Regions from separate parts of the Homo sapiens genome. Here regions 1 and 2 are each linked to region 3. Evidence: fine-mapped expression QTL. A gene starts in region 3. Each other region holds a variant in brackets. All regions are shown on one strand. Distances are from middle to middle.

Evidence for each region. PIP is the estimated chance that this variant, and not a neighbour inherited with it, causes the effect.
Region 1: its variant is fine-mapped to the expression of EMC1 in whole blood (TOPMed, PIP above 0.99). The same link has a PIP of 0.9 or more in cerebellum, esophagus muscle, ileum, left ventricle, lymphoblastoid cells and nucleus accumbens.
Region 2: its variant is fine-mapped to the expression of EMC1 in aorta (GTEx, PIP 0.96). The same link has a PIP of 0.9 or more in gastroesophageal junction, subcutaneous fat and transverse colon.

What each region holds. Positions count from the first base shown.
Region 1 is chr1:19,229,142-19,234,476 of GRCh38, forward strand. It overlaps EMC1 (ER membrane protein complex subunit 1), which reads right to left. Exons shown (of 23, transcript NM_015047.3): 14 at 3,795-3,994; 15 at 3,483-3,632; 16 at 2,120-2,281; 17 at 1,703-1,822. All of the region lies in intron 1 of EMC1-AS1 (EMC1 antisense RNA 1), which reads left to right. Among named protein-coding and RNA genes, the nearest start is that of EMC1, 20 kb to the right of the region's middle. The variant G/C (reference allele first, on the strand shown) is at 2,078.
Region 2 is chr1:19,085,772-19,091,106 of GRCh38, forward strand. UBR4 (ubiquitin protein ligase E3 component n-recognin 4) reads right to left here. Exons shown (of 106, transcript NM_020765.3): 98 at 2,988-3,206; 99 at 2,045-2,158; 100 at 908-1,050; 101 at 374-499. Among named protein-coding and RNA genes, the nearest start is that of UBR4, 120 kb to the right of the region's middle. RefSeq lists an enhancer at 1,900-2,269. The variant C/T (reference allele first, on the strand shown) is at 3,039.
Region 3 is chr1:19,249,274-19,254,273 of GRCh38, forward strand. It overlaps EMC1 (ER membrane protein complex subunit 1), which reads right to left and starts at 2,251. Exons shown (of 23, transcript NM_015047.3): 1 at 2,142-2,251. The coding sequence starts at 2,236. MRTO4 (MRT4 homolog, ribosome maturation factor) reads left to right here and starts at 2,532. Exons shown (of 8, transcript NM_016183.4): 1 at 2,532-2,590. The coding sequence starts at 2,563. RefSeq lists enhancers at 2,164-2,669, 4,486-4,987, 4,988-5,000 and a silencer at 4,779-4,924.

The DNA.
Region 1 (5,335 bases), 20 kb before region 3:
AACTGCTGACAGGCTTTCCACCTGGGGAGGGGAAGACCGCTGGGAATGGGGCTACAAGGGTCTGTTCACATTTTGCTTGTTCACCTCTCTGTATCAATGGACTCTTTTACAATGAGAATATACTCAATGTATTACCTAAATTTTTAAAATAGTGAAAATTATTAATAATAAGCCTTCATTGCCACAACCTTCTTTGAAAACATAAGAACTCACTAAAACATCCCCAGAGAGGAAGGTCACCAAGTGAGGGCAAAGGCAGCACACTCCCTTGTGGTCCCGGACTCGCGCACACAGCTGGCTCACTTCCCACAGACAGCTCTGCCTCCTTTGTCTTCCTTGGTCATTGTTCACTCAGATGATGTCCTCAGGACTCCAGATTCATGACACCCACACTCCAGTTCACTCCCCTGAATCTACAAAACTGTCTCTTTCAAGGTCCTCTTTTTATTAACTCAGAAGGATGATTTTATTTATTTATGTTTTCATTCACAAGGGTAAAGGATGTGTCTTCTGGGCAGACCATTTCCAGTGCTGTTTATGCTAAGGTTAGCTGTTACAAATGTCACAAAAGGGCGCTGCATTTTCAAAACAACAGCACCTCCAACTCAGATGGCATTTACCATGTGCCAGGCAGTTTTATGTGATTTATGTGTTGAATTCTCACAACAACCTTATGAGACAGGTACTTATCACCTTATTTTACAGATAAGAAAACAGAAGACCAGAGCCCAAGGTCACAAAGTTAGTAAGTGACAAACCTAGACTTCCAATCTAGCAAATTGGTTAAACTCTATGCCTCTCAAAAGGCCTTACAGGACAGGATGGGAGAGCTGTTTGTGAGTACACACCACAGAGTACTTCTCCAAACAGTCCTGCTAACAAGGCCATGCCAGCCCCTCGTGAACTTCAGAGCTGGACTTCACAGCCAGCGTGTATTACTGTTTACAAGAGTTGGTCTCAAGTATGTGAGGATTAAAGCAAACTGACCCCCTTTCTAGAAATAAAATTCAAAGCACACATTCCATCACGAGTTGGTCAACATCATCTTCATATAAAAGTACAACTTATTACTCAACCCACATTCCTACCTTCTACCCTCCCAAGAATGGAAAAAAAGTCCCATCTCTCTGCTATAGAAAAATAATGGGGCCAGGCGCGGTGGCTCACGCCTGTAATCCCAGCACTTTGGGAGGCTGAGGCAGGTGGATCACAAGGTCAGGAGTTTGAGACCATCCTGGCCAACACAGCAAAGCCCTGTCTCTACTAAAAATACAAAAAATTAGCCGGGCGCGGTGGCGCACGCCTGTAATCCCAGCTACTTGGGTGTCTGAGGCAGGAGAATCGCTTGAACCAAGGAGGCAGAGGTTGCAGTGAGCCGAGATCGCACCACTGCACTCCAGCCCGGGCGACAGTGCAAGACTCCATCTCAAAAAAAAAAAGAAAAAGAATGTGGAATGAAAGCTCCACAAGGGCAGAGATTTGTTCTACTGTGCACCACTCCATCCACAGCACCTAGAACCGTATCTGCCATGTAGTAGCTGCCCAACAAATATGAACAAATGATTGACTTTGTATCAGACATCAGGATTATGCTAATCTAAGTTTACAGTAGAATGAGTAGCATAATTCACTTCTTAGCCAAATGGCCAGGAAACACCTGCATCTCATCCACAAAGGGTTGTGCCAGGACATGCCTTCCTACCTTTCGAAGCCGATATCCACACAGCCGTCCCTGCTCTGCATCCACCAAATAGAAGAAGATGGAAGGGGCAAGCTCATGTAGCTGTCGCAAGACATTCCGAGTGGCTGGAAAAGCTGTGACCTTGAAAAACCCAGAGAGCCCAAGGAAAGAGTTAGGAAATTTCCCCATCAAAGAGAGCCTTAAGAATAAAACTGCAAATCAGTTGATTTGAACTCAGTTTAGGGTTTACATTCAGTTCTGTTAAGAACCTGAGTTTTCACAAATGCAGACACAGCCATCATTTCTCTTCGGGATGGCCTTAGAGCCCAAACACGTGCTGGGTGCAGAGAGCACTCCATCTCCGGGCCGCTGTGTTTGACCACCTGGCCCCAAACC[G/C]GACTCCGCTAGCATGTTCTCCATCCCCTCTGAAGACAGTACCTTGTATTCATCATCTATCAACAGCAACACCTTGGCGTAGTCTTGATCCATGACTGGGAGAAGCAAGGACTGCAAGATGGGGCGCTTCAGCACTGGGGGAGCTACCTGACTCCACTTCCCAAAAATGGGATTGAAGACATACAGAGAACTCATTCCCGACTCCTAAAATGAGCAAACTGTCAGGCTCCACCAACAAGAAAAGACTGCAAATCCTAGGGATAGACCTGAAGAGCTGGGACTCCAGCTCAACAACTGTGGGGGTTCTCTAGTCTTTGCCCTCTTTGTGGAAAATAAGTTCTTGGCTGTAGGTGAATAGTCCCCTAGGCTAACGTCACAAAGAAAAAAGTCAAACTGTCTCTGCCAGTTCTTTTTCGTTTGAGACAGGGTCTCTCTCTATCACCCAAGCTGGAAGTACAGTGGCATGATCAAGGCTCACTGCAACCTCTGCCTCCCAGGTTCAAGTGATCCTCCCACCTCAACCTCCCAAGTAGCTGGGACTACAGGCACAAACCACCACACGTGGCTAATTCTGTTTTTATTTTTTGTAGAGAGGGGTTTCACCATGTTGCCCAGGCTGGTCTCGAACTCCTGGACTCAAGCAATCCGCCCTCCTTGGCCTCCCAAAGTGCTGAGATTATAAGCGTGAGCCACCGCGCCTGGCTGCTCTGCCAGTTCTAAACAAGAACTAATAAAAAAGTCAAGTAACAATTCAGCAACCTGGCCGGGCGTGGTGGCTCACACCTGTAATCCCAGTACTTTGGGAGGCCGAGGCAGGTGGATCATCTAAGGTCAGGAGTTTGAGACCAGCCTGGCCAACATGGTGAGACCCTGTCTCTACTAAACATACAAAAATCAGCCGGGCATGATGGCGTGTGCCTGTAATCCCAGCTACTCGGGAGGCTGAGGCACAAGAATTGCTTGAACCTGGGAGGTGGAGGCTGCAGTGAGCCGAGATCGCACCAGGCAGCCGTTCCAGGAAAGTGTCTACCAAGCCCGCCTTCTATGCTAGAATGAATACACAAAAATCCATTCTAATTCTGGGAAGACACAAAAATATCTTTGTGTCCTGCTCTTCCTCAAAGAGAGAAGAGAAAATAGCCACTCAGCAACCAACAGCCAATGTTTAGAAAAGAGGAGAGCTGGCTCCCTACATAGCTGGTGAAGTCACACCCACTTTCTAAACAATTCCACATCAGTGCTGGATGGTTCCTCCACCCATGCATGAAACTAGAAGAAACAGAGTTCTAACCCCTGAATGTTCCTCATTAACTCACACAATTCCAAGGGCCTAGGAGCAATTTAAGTTACAAAATAGCAAAAAAGCCACACTGAGTCTGGCTCAAGTCAGAGCTGGATGCCTCACCTTGTCCTTCACCAGCAGGGTGCACTGTGGGGGATGGGGGAAATGAGCAGTAGTTCTCTGGACCATCAGTTTAAAGGAGGAGTCTGGCTTGACATTGGGTAGATACTGTTTCCACAGGATGGTGCCAGAGCTGCTCTCAATGCCAAAAAGCTGCAAGATAAACAAATACTTGGCTCACTACTAGAAAGAGAAACCAAAGAACTGAGTCTGTCCTTGAAAACTAGAACCAGTGTTATCCCTCACTGAAGGCTTTTTGTTCCTCACCCTCAGAATTTGAAAAGGTTCAGTAACTGGAGCTTAAACCCCACTCACCTTGCCTGAGGCTGTTACCATCACCATCATCTTCTGGAGGTTGAATTCATCTCTGGCCAGGGTGTCAATGTTGATCTCATTCTTAATCTGACTCCGGGGCTTCCGAGCATCATAAAACATTTTCCAGAGGTGGGAAGTCCATGCTTGCAGCAGGATAAGCTGAGACGAGAGGCGTTTCAGGAACATCCCCAGCAAGCCATCTGGTGTAAAGGAAAAGTAACATACTCTACATCAGACTAGGGGTCCATAAGGAGGTACATGATTTTCCTAATGAGGGATCTCTGCCTCTCCTCTGGAGCAATAAAGTCCACACTCTAGGCCACAAGCCCAAAGGGCAGTCCTGTATCTGATGCCCAAAGTCTCACACTCAGGTGAGGCTCATGCAGGAGCTTCCAAAAACTGCTTAACTGGCTCTTAACAACTAAACCCAGCTGGAATCTTGGAATAGGAGACTAAGAGGTCAGGGATCAGGCATGCAGGAGACAGCCATGCTGTGAATGTCTCCACCACAGCCCCACATCCAAGATGCTAAAAGAAGGTTTCTGGGTGCCATGACAAAGCCAGAAGAGGTATGAGTGTGGGGGTGGAGGGTGCAGGTCAGTGAATATGTATCATGAGCAGGTACTTCCATCTCCCATTGCTTCATTCCTACTTTGTCAGCTGTTTAACCTGCACCCAACAGACGTACTTGCAACGAGTTCCCAGGACCATCATTCACTCTTTCCCTGATTCCGTCAATGAAGCCACTGCCCTCCAAATCTCCTCCATTGGAGACCACAGATTTGTAAACAGATGCAAGGAAGCAAGGTAAAGAGCATGGTCTCTGGAATCTAGCAGGCCCAGATTAAGATCCCAGCTTCACCACTCACTGCGGGGTAACACTGAGAAATGTACTTCACCTTTTTGCTTCTGGTTCCTCATCTGTAAAGTGGCATGTAACCCACTGGACTGTTCCAAAATTACATCATACGATGTACATAAAGGATTTAGCGTGGTGGCTGGTACATGGTAATAACTCACTAAAAAAGGAGCAGAACCTCTGCTTATCTTATTTTCCACCCACCTCTGCTCAAGGAAGAGAAGTGAGAAGCAACAGGACAACTCACAAGCATGGCAGTCAACACACACACACACACACCCCAAGGATGTACCTCATTGGTCCAAGTTAGGAAGAAAAACAATTAACCAAAAGCTAGCCATGTGAGCAGGCAACGAGCAACAAGGCAGCAAGAAGCAGGTTTTACCTTGAATTGCTGGATCCAGGCAGCAGAAATAAACAGTAAAGTCAAATTAATCCTCAGCTTAAGAAAATGTGCATTGCCTAGCAGAGTGCCTGGTCCAGAGCAGGCCCTCAACAGCTATCCGTTGGAGGGCTGGATGAATGGAGAGAAGAGAGAGGGTGGGGGGCAGGACTGAATCAGAGCAGAGTGAATCAAGTTCATCCTGGCAGTTGGGACCATGGCCAGCTTTAGAGGGCACTGGGCTGTTTCCACAATACCCAGATCAACCCAATGGTGTCTCCAGACAGATATGGCTGCTGC
Region 2 (5,335 bases), 160 kb before region 3:
TTAAACCTCAGAGCCACACACTGTAGAAGTGAACTCAGAAATTCTGGCCTCAAGGACCAAGTTGGCCCCACATCTTCTGTCATAAGATCAGCAAAGGAATAGTGAAGACCCAGAAATTTCATCTGGTACCCTGGAAGCTAAGGGTGCTGGTTCCTCCCACCCTGTGGTGGGCCATGTCAGGTCACCCCTTGAGTAAGCCTCCATCCCCCACCCTGTATGCTCTGGACAGCTCCCCAGTCAGCAAGCAGACAGACATGGATTCCCAAGGAAGGTAACAGGAAATGGTGTCACCAGGGGATTGGGCTGATAGCGGGTCTTGTCCCATCCCCTGCAAATCCCCTCCATTCCACCATGAAAAATACTCAACACTCACCTTGCCAAGCAAGTGGCAAAAGCTGATTCAGGGACATGAGGTCCCCAGACCGGAAGGAGCCCGTTGCACTTGGTGTTGGCATTCTGCAGGGCGGCACTCTCCCACTCTTCCCGGCCTCGAGCCAACCTGGATAGGGAGGAGAGCAGGGACAAGCGACTGCTGGCATTAACGTGGCAACCAGGCACCTGGGCGGGGGGGCGGGGGTGGGGGTGGGGGCATGCCAACACTAAGAAGTCAGTCGGCCCAGGCTCCTGACCCTGCGAAGAGAATTTGCTATTTGTAGCCTCAATGTGGTACACACTGGCTTTGCTGACTCAGGTAGGCAGGGCTGTTCTCACTAGCCTTGGGCCCAGGCCAAAGCATATTTTCCTATCATTCAAATAACTGCTTGGGGACCTATATGGTGTCAGGCAGAACACCCTACTCTCCAGAGACTAAGGAGCAGATTTAAAACCACGAGGATGGCAGTCCCACCCGCTCCAGGCCCACAGGCAGGCCTACTGAAGGAGCCATTCCGCAAGAGCCAGGGCCTACCTGACGGCAGCCAGATGGCAGTCGTAGTGCACAATGTTGAAGTGGGACACGGTGCTGTAGCCCTGCTGTTTCCGGGGCTTATTCTCCATCTCCTCCAAGGCTACCCGCTTCGTGAAGGTATAAATGCCCAGGACCTTTGTGGGCTGCAAAGACGACAACATAAGGAGAGGGGAGGAGAAACTCCAAGTCAGGCTCAGGAGAAGCAGAATAGAGGGGAACTGCCGCCCTTCTTGGGCAATGCCTTGGGTTTCAGGTTGCTCTCACTAGGGAAGTTCAGAAGAGCAGGTAAGGCCAGCCCCTCAGTCTGTTGGTGAAGCACTTGGCTGGCCGCAGCCCTAGTGAAACAAGGATTATGGGAGCAACCAGCAAGAAGGGGATGCGGTGCAGATGCAGAGGCATACACATAAGCAAGCCTCGGCCATCTTTCTTTACTTTGTGCTTCATCTGTCTGAAAATGCAGAAGTGACTTCTTGATATTCCCTTGCTTTTCAAAACCTGCTGGGCAGCTCTGAAGAGCCTGCATTACGCAGGACTAACGAGCCCTGTGGCCCAGGCACCTGCCCTTTCACAGCCTGTATTCTAAGCAGTAAGTTCCAGCTGGAAAGAAGAGGCCACCTTTGAGCCTTCAGGAGAGCCAGCAGGTCACTGGCTGCTCTGCTCCTTTCAGGTGGAATCTAGTTTGGATAAGCCTAGAAAGTTCTGATTTTCTCCCCAGTTACCCTGAATGGAGGCAGCATGGTATGTTTTTAAAAGCCCAGGTCTGGAGTCTGAGAAGCCTAGGCTGGAATTCTGGCTCTGCCATGTGACCTTTGTTTGCTTAACCACAAGTTGAGACTTTTTACAGGTTTAAATAAAATTATCCAGTTTACACAAAGCTCTGAGCATGAGGCCTCACATATAGGAAGAATCCAATGAGCAGCATTTGTCATGATGATGATAAAGATAACAAAGTCTAAAGTTCGGATGAGCTCGCCTTCCTGCCTCTAAAGAGGACAGCTGGTCCTTTTGTTAATCTCCTAAGATGCAGGCCTTGATCTTGCCTAGCTAAGAACAAAATGGCCTGGAGGAGGGGGATGCTACCTAGAACAAGGGGTCAGGCTGGGCCCTCAGGACCGACCGTAGGCCCAGCAGCTGTACCTGGAACTTGTATCCCTCCCTGCAGATGCAGCACGTGAGGCCAGGCTCCTCGATCAGCTCTTCCATCTGCTTCAGGAGTGCTGTCTTGGTCACGACCTGGCCCTTTTCATTTGTCTGTAGGGGAACCCCGGTGGCATGTCAAGGGGATTTCCACACACCCTCTCCCACCCTAGCTTGGAGATGCTCAGGAACAGGGCTAACCTTCTACCTCCACTAAAAGGACAGGTGCATGAGAGGAAAGCCCTTGAGCTGTCTTCTAATAAGGATAAAGACCCAGGCCCTTCTGCTATTCTCTCTTCCTACAGGAACCACTGAAGCAAAGGAAGTCATCCAGCTGGAGCCCTGGCAAGGTGCCACCTGCCATCAGAAAAGCCCCCTTTCTTCATGCCAGCATCTTCGTGCCAGCAATGCCAAGTCTCAGCTTCCAAGGGTTGTTGCACTATGATTCATTCACTGTTCCCAGGTGAGCTTTTCAACTGCTGACACTCAAGTCTGTGCTTTGGAAAAGGAGCTTGTAGGACTCTGCTTCCTCCAAGGTGGGACAGTTAGAAGAGCACAGAACCCTTTGTGTCAACCACTTATTAGTTATGTGCCTTGGCCTATTTACTTCACCTCTCAGTTTCAGTTACTTCATCTGGAAAATGGGTATAACAATATCAACCTCCTAGAACTACTTGAGGGCTTAAATAAGTCCTCAATAAACTTAATGGCTATTATCACTGGTTTACTGTTTTGGTAAACTTCGTAAGTCACTTACTCCGAGTCTCATCTGTATGATAGAACGATAGTAGTTCCACCTCTGAGAGGGCCGAACACACCTAGTTCCTTCCTCCTACTCTGTCCAGCCTTCTCTTTCCCCATGGCCAACCCCAGGGCTGTCCCATGGCCACCTCCTCATCAACAGTGTGGGCAGAAATATGGGGACTCTAGGTGGTAGCTTTACCGTCATGCCCAGGGTGCCCAGGGCCTTCTGCCTCATTGCCATGGCCATGCG[C/T]TTCTTCTCTGCCCGGGTCTCCCTGCGGGCTGCGTCAATCTTCTTGTTTACGTCAGGGTGTTCCCGCAGGGCTTCCAGCAGGTTCTCTGCCAAGGTCCCAATGCCCTCATCACTGGACACCTGCTCCAGCTTATGCAGGTTCGGGATGGAATCAGTTCCAATCAGAACCTGCCAGTAAGAGACCAGAGAGACACATGCCTCCAATTATGTAGACAAACCTTCTTCCCGGGAGCTTAAAGGTTTAGAAACTCAACCAGCATGCACCATCTCATGTCACCTGCTCAGCTGCAATCAGGTCCTTTGATTCCACACTTTGACAGACACAGACAAATGGAAGAGGGTTTGGCTCTGCCACTGCCTCTGACCAATTCCTATGCTCTAAGCTCAGTATTTCCATCTATAAAATGGGGATAGTGCAAGGGCTGCTGTGATGACTAAAAACTAGATAACATATGCAAAGCATCCATCACAGAGGATGTGGAAAGGGGCCAGGAGAAGATCCCCGTATTCTGGTAAGACAAGCAGCAACACCTGATGTGTACTGAGTGGTGAACCAGCAGCCAGAGCAGGCACTGGACGTTCTCCTAAGGACCTGCCCTGAGTTCTCCACGGGAGCCCCTGGGTCCACCAAACCTAGGAGCACAGTTTTCTCAGGCTAGGGATACTAGAGGTGCAATGACTACAAGCAGGTATGGACATGAAAAACTTTAACAACAAAAAAGATATTAACAAGAAACCTCTGTGCCTGAAAAAGCTGGAAGTCACTACGTATAGCGCTATGTGATAAACGGGGGTGGAGAACATCAGAAGGCTAAAGACAGGTGTAGTTGGAAAAAGCACTCCAGGTGAGCTCACTGAGAAATATTACCACATCCCTGAAATCCTCACCAACCTGTCACAAGTGACTTGACAGCAATGATTACATATGAGACAACAGGCTGAAAATAACACAGCCAGCAGATCACTCAGTAGCTCATAAATCTGTTCTCACAGCAAGTCCACTTCCAATCTGTGTCTCAGCGAAATTACCTATTCCCTCATGTCTCATGCTCCTAAATGCTGAGCCCATATTTCAACTCCTACTGAGCTTTTCCACAGGTACCCCAAACTCAACATTCTGGCTGTTTACTGTGTGTGCATGCTTGCACATGTGTGTTTTCGGTGCTGGGAAAACAAAGACCTTGCTCTCATTTAACTTACATTCTAGTTATTAATAGGACAGACCATACATTCATAGCATAGTCTAATGAACTCTCCTCCACCTTACTCGCAAACCTCTGATCTTCTCCATCTCAGTGGCACCACCATTCACCTCATCACTCATTCCAGAAACTGAGCAGGTTCTTGATTCATTCAGCTTCTTAGCTTCTCACGTTCGGTCACTCTCCAAATCCCATTTATTCTTCCTCCCAGCTCAATCTCTGTTGAATCTATCCATGAACTAGTTTAAGCTGCCATTTCTCTCACTTCAATTACGATAAAAGCCTGTCAACTGTTCTTCCTACCTCCAATCTCACCTCCCTTCAATTCACTCTCTGTAATATGGCCAGGGCACTGCCCTCAGGAGAAAACCCACACTCCTCTTCTGGGAGAAAGAACATGCCTTTCCCCTGCTTGGATCTCCATCGGCAGCTCTTGCCATGCCTCGCCTCCGACTGCAGCTGCTTTCAATTCTTGGAAGGCTTTAAGCTCTCTTTGGCCTCTGAACCTTTGCAGGTGCCATGCCCTCTACTTAACAATCCTATTTCCTGAGGCCCCTTCCACACTGCATCTATCTCGCTGTTTAGTTACTACTCTGTATTTGGCTCTATCTTCCACCAGACAGTAAGCTCCCAACAGGCACAGGCGACAGCTGTCTCCTCAGTCTAACACAGGACCAGCTACACAACAAGATGTGTTGCAAGAAAAATGAATGGCCATAGCATAAATGCCAAGTATCTAACTAGATAAAGCCTTATTCTAAAGAAAGTAATTCAATTTGGTAACTAAGAATAAATCTGGATGGCCAGACACAATGGCTCACGTCTGTAATCCCAGCACTTTGGGAGGCTGAGGGGAGCGGATCACCTGAGGTCAGGAGTTGGAGACCAGCCTGGCCAACATGGTGAAACCCCGAGTCTACTAAAAATACAAAAAATTGGCCAGGTGTGGTGGCAGGTGCCTTTAGTTCCAGCTACTCGGGAGGCTGAGACAGGAGAATCGCTTGAACCCGGGAGGCAGAGGTTGCAGTGAGCCGAGACCATGCCACTGCACTCCAGCCTGGGTGACAAGAGCAAAACTTCATCTCAAAAAAAAAA
Region 3 (5,000 bases):
ACTGACTAACCCCAGAACAACTCCTAGTTCTGCAAGATACATTCATGTTAAGTGCCCTATACCAGTGTACCATTTTTTATCTTTCATATCCTATTTTTACCATACATTTTCTATGTTTAGATACACAAATATTTACCATTGTGTTACAATTGCCTACAGTTTTCAGTAAAGTAACATGCCGTACAGGTTTGTAGCCTAGGAAGAATAGGCTGTACCATATAGCCTAGGTGTGTAGTAGGCTAAACCATCTAGATTTACATAAGTACATGCTACAACGTTTGCACAAGAGGGCATTTCTCAGGATGTATTCCCATCATTAAGTGATGCATACCTGTATGTCTTCATTTATTTTTCAATCTGAAAACTGTAGGCCAGGTGCAGTGGCTCACACCTGTAATCCCAGCACTTTGGGAGGCCGAGGCAGCCAGATTGCTTGAGCCCAGGTGTTCAAGACCAGCCTGGGCAACATGGCAAAACCCCGTCTCTACAAAAAATACAAAGAAACTGGAGAGGTGTGCACCAGTAGTCCCAGCTACTCAGGAGGCTGAGCTGGGAGGGTCACTTGAACCTGCAAGGTCAAAGCTGCAGTGAGCCATGATAGTACTGTACTCCAGCCTGGGCTACAGAATGAGTCCCTGTCTCAAAAAATTTTAAAAAGTCTTGGCTGGGCGCAGTGGCTCCCACCTGTAATTCCAACACTTTGGGAGGCCTAGGCGGGTGGATTACCTGAGATCGGGAGTTTGAGACCAGCCTGACCAACATGGAGAAACCCTGTCTCTACCAAAAATACAAAAATTAGCTGGGTGTGGTGGCGCATGCCTGTAATCCCAGCTACTCGGGAGGCTGAGGCAGGAGAATCGCTTGAACCCCAGAGGCGGAGGTTGTGGTGAGCCATGAGATCGCGCCATTACACTCCAGCCTGGGCAACAAGAGCAAAACTGTCTCAAAAAAAAAAAAAAAAAAAAAAAAAAAAAGTCTTAAACAGAGTCCTTTTCCCCCCTCATCAGCCTAACCTGGCCCTGGGCTCAGAGCAGAGCTGCCCAAGACACTAAGCAGTTAGGAAATGCCATTCATTCATTCATTCATTCATGAAAATAAAATTAAGAAAATTGCATATATCAAGTATTCTGCAAAATTAGATACACATATCACCCGATATATATGTGTAACATACACATATGACATTGTGAACAGTTGTGCACATCATTAAAAATGTAACATGTTTTATTTGTCACACTGTCTGGCATAACAGGTACTCAACATATATGCGAATCAACTTTTCCAAGACAGAAAATACTTCAGAGGAGGAGAAATCTGACCTGGGCCCTGAAGAATAAAGTGTAAATAGCAATAATAACAGATAACGCTTAATGACTGCATTCAATGAGCCAGGCATTGTGCTAAGTAATTTAATGGGATTGTCTCATTCATTCTCACAAGTACTGTAAGAGATAACGGACTGTTAGTAAACCCATTCTACAGACAAAGAAACCAAGGCACAGAGTGGTTAAGTCACTTTCCCCAAGATCACACAAGTCTTAACTAGTAAAATTCAAACAAAAGCAAGCTACTCCAGGGCCTTAAGGAAGACGTGGGTGGGTGAATGAATGAATGAGTGAATGGCATATTCTAGCTGCTTAGTGTTTTGGGCAATCCTGCTGTGAGCCCAGGGCCAGACTAGGTTGATGAGAGGGGAAAAGGACTCAGTTTAGGACTTTTAAGACGAAAGCTCCTGTTCACTTGCCTACAAGACACCAATTCGAGTAGGAATTAAAGTTCACTGACAGCTTGGCGACCTCTGACACCTGGTAGACCAGAAACCTCACAGTCAAAAAAATCGAACCTGACGAGGGAGGACGGGATCAGTGATCTCTGACCGGCACCCCAAGCATTCCTGGATGGCAGGGCCGGCTTACACGCAAGGATCAGCTTAGAATGACCCCTAACACTTGGTTTAAGGCTCTGCTTCCAACGACTTTAAATCCTTAATAATTTTTTAACAAGGGGCCCCACGTTTTCATTTTGTACTGGGTCCTGCAAATTATGCGGCCAATCCTGTTAAGTGACAACCTTTAGCAGGTAGGAGACAGGTACTGGGGAAACAGCCACTTATCTCTCGAATATGTTCCACACGTACGCACCAATCAAACTTGCCCACTTGGTCTTCGTAGACCGCGGCCGCAGGAATCAGCAGCGTAGCCCAAAGCCAGAAACGAGAAGCCCACTCAGCCGCCATGATGCGAGCGCATGCACCACCCACCGCCGTCCCGGCATGCACCGCGCCGCGGGCTCCGCCTCCGCGGGACCACAGAGCTGGGATAGCGCGCGAGGCCCTCGGTCGGACGGGACGCTCGGGATTCAGGGACTGCCTCGGCACACGGGAAGTTGCCCTACAGGCGCGGGAGAAAGCGCAGGCGGCGGCTTGGCAGGGAGAGGCAGGCTGCAGTGCACATTGGGTCAGGCACACGCGAGGGGCAGCCCCCGAGGGCCGTCCCAGAGTCCCCCGCGCCGCCGGGGTCCTAACGGGGTGCACCGTCTTCCGCCGCACGTGGATTCAGCGCGATGCCCAAATCCAAGCGCGACAAGAAAGGTGGGCGAAGGGGGAGTCGGGACCCTGGGGGGAGCTCCGTGGGCTGGCTACCCAGCCTGCGGTGAGGGCTTCGGGGCGGCGGGGGCGCAGATTGGAACGCCAGGACATCCTCGAGGTGTTCCGCTGCCTCGCTGCGAGCTGGAATGGGGGCTTCGGGGCTGTAAAACCGCCAGAGGTGGCTGACGCCCGGTCGGGTCTGGGGAGCGGAGACTCGTTTTGCCTAGTTTCAGGTGCTCTTGCAAGGCCAACTGGGTCGGGAGGCAGCTCCTGAACACCGCCCCCGGCTATGCCTGCTGCCGTTTCGGCCCACTTTTCCCAACTTCGGCCCTTTCTCATCTTCCTGCGCTCCCGCCACCCTGGCTGCCTTTCCCTTCTTTCAGCACAGGTTTGTTCCCGTGTCTGGCGTTGTGTGTCTGCGGTTGTTTCTGCCTGGCATGCTTACATCTTCGTATGGTTTGCGCCTTCTTAGTTGTCAGTTAATAGGATCCCTCTGAGACAGGGTCTCGCTCTGTTGCCCAGGCTGGAGTGCAGTGGCGCGATCGTAACACTGCAGGCCGGATGCGGTGGCTCACGCCTGTAATCCCAGCACTCTGGGAGGCCGAGGCGGGCGAATCATCTGAGGTCGGGAGTTCCCGACCAGCCTGGCCAATATGGTGAAACCCCTTTTCTACTAAAAATACTAAAAATTAGATGGGCATGGTGGCAGGTGCCTGTAATCCCAGCTACTTGGGAGACTGAGGCGGGAGAATCGCTTGAATCCGGGAGGCGGAGGTTGCAATGAGCCGAGATCGCTCCACTGTACTGCAGCCTGGGCACGACAGAGCGAGACTCCGTCTCAAAAATAAATAAATAAAATAAGTCACTGCAGCCTTGACCTCCTTGGCTTAAGCGATCCTCCCACCTCAACCTCCCGAGTAGCTGAGACTACAGGCGCACGCCACCACACCCAGCTAGGTTTTTTTTGTTTATTTTTTATAGAGAAGACTCAGTGTGTTGCCAAGCTGGTCTCGAACACCTGGGCTCCAACCACCCTCCCTGAGTGCTGGGATTACAGGCGTGAGCCACTACACCCGACTTGCGCACCTCTTAAGAGACCGTTTTTGACCACCTTTGCTGTGGTGGCCTCTCTCTTAACCCGGCTCCCTGGAATATTCAAAAATATTTAGGGGTCTGGCACTTTCTAGGCGTTAGAGGATACAGCAGTCACAAGGAAAGCCTATTTCTTATCGAGCCTAACGTTTTAGGAGAAACATATTCCGCAAAATGCTAAAAATCAGATTGAAAATGGGGTGAAGAGATGTTGATATTTTGTATAGTGTGGTCGGGAAAGGTCTCACTGATGAAGTGACAAATGAGCAGAAAATAAAGAAAGGAAGCGAGCAACCTGTGGAATTGAGCAGCTGTGGAATTATCTGGGAGAATGCTGTTCCAAGTAGAGGGAACCTGAAGTGAAAAGGCTCTGAAATGGGAGCAGATATGACGTGTTTGGGACAAGAGGCCAGTGAGGCTGGAGCAGAAGGAGCCAAATAGAGTTTGGGGAGGGAGTTAGGCAGAGAGGGCAGGACTTCCTCGGCCTTGGCAAGGCATTGGCTTTCCTGCCCAGGTGAAGTGAGTAGCAGAGGACCCATGTGATTTACCTTTACTTATGAAGGGTCACTCTGGTTGCCTTGGTGAGAATAGTTGGGGAAGACAGGGCAGAGGGCAGGAATGGAAGCAGTGAGACCAGCATTAATCCAAGACAGGGTGATGCTGGCTTGAGCCAAAGGTATAACAGTGGAAATGATGGGAAGTGGCCCGCTATATTTCGTTTGCCCTCCTCTGCTCCACTTACCATTGACTGATGTCATTGTCTTTGTCTGTGTGGTACCTAGTTAAGAGGGGCTGAGTGCGGGCAGGTTAAAGAAGAGAGGCCTGGGTCCCTTTGTGAAGGCGCCCGGGGCTTTGCAGTTGGAGTTCTGTTAAGTGTTTCTGGAACGATTTGATTCTGTGGAGGGGCCTGGGTCAGGTCTGGCAAATGCCAAACTCTGTGGGTAGAGGGCAAATTGGGCCCCAGCCATTTTTACAGTAGAGGTACATGTTCCTCCCCAGAGAGGTGTTGCTGCGTCTTTGGGTCCAAATTGCAATACTGGGGTGCAGATACATACCAGGAGATTCAGTCCCCAGCCTCATGGTTGCACAGCATAGGCCAGCTAGAGTGGCCTCTGCATCATGGTCAAGAGCAGCAAGGGGCCAGGCATGGTGGCTCACACCTATGATTCCAACACTTTGGGAGACTGAGGTAGGCAGATCTCTTGAGCCCAGGAGTTCGAGACCAACCTGGGCAACATGGCAAAAGCCATCTCTGCAAAAAATACAAAACTCACCTGGGCATGGTGGTGCATTTCTGTGGTCCCAGCCAAAATTAGCAGGC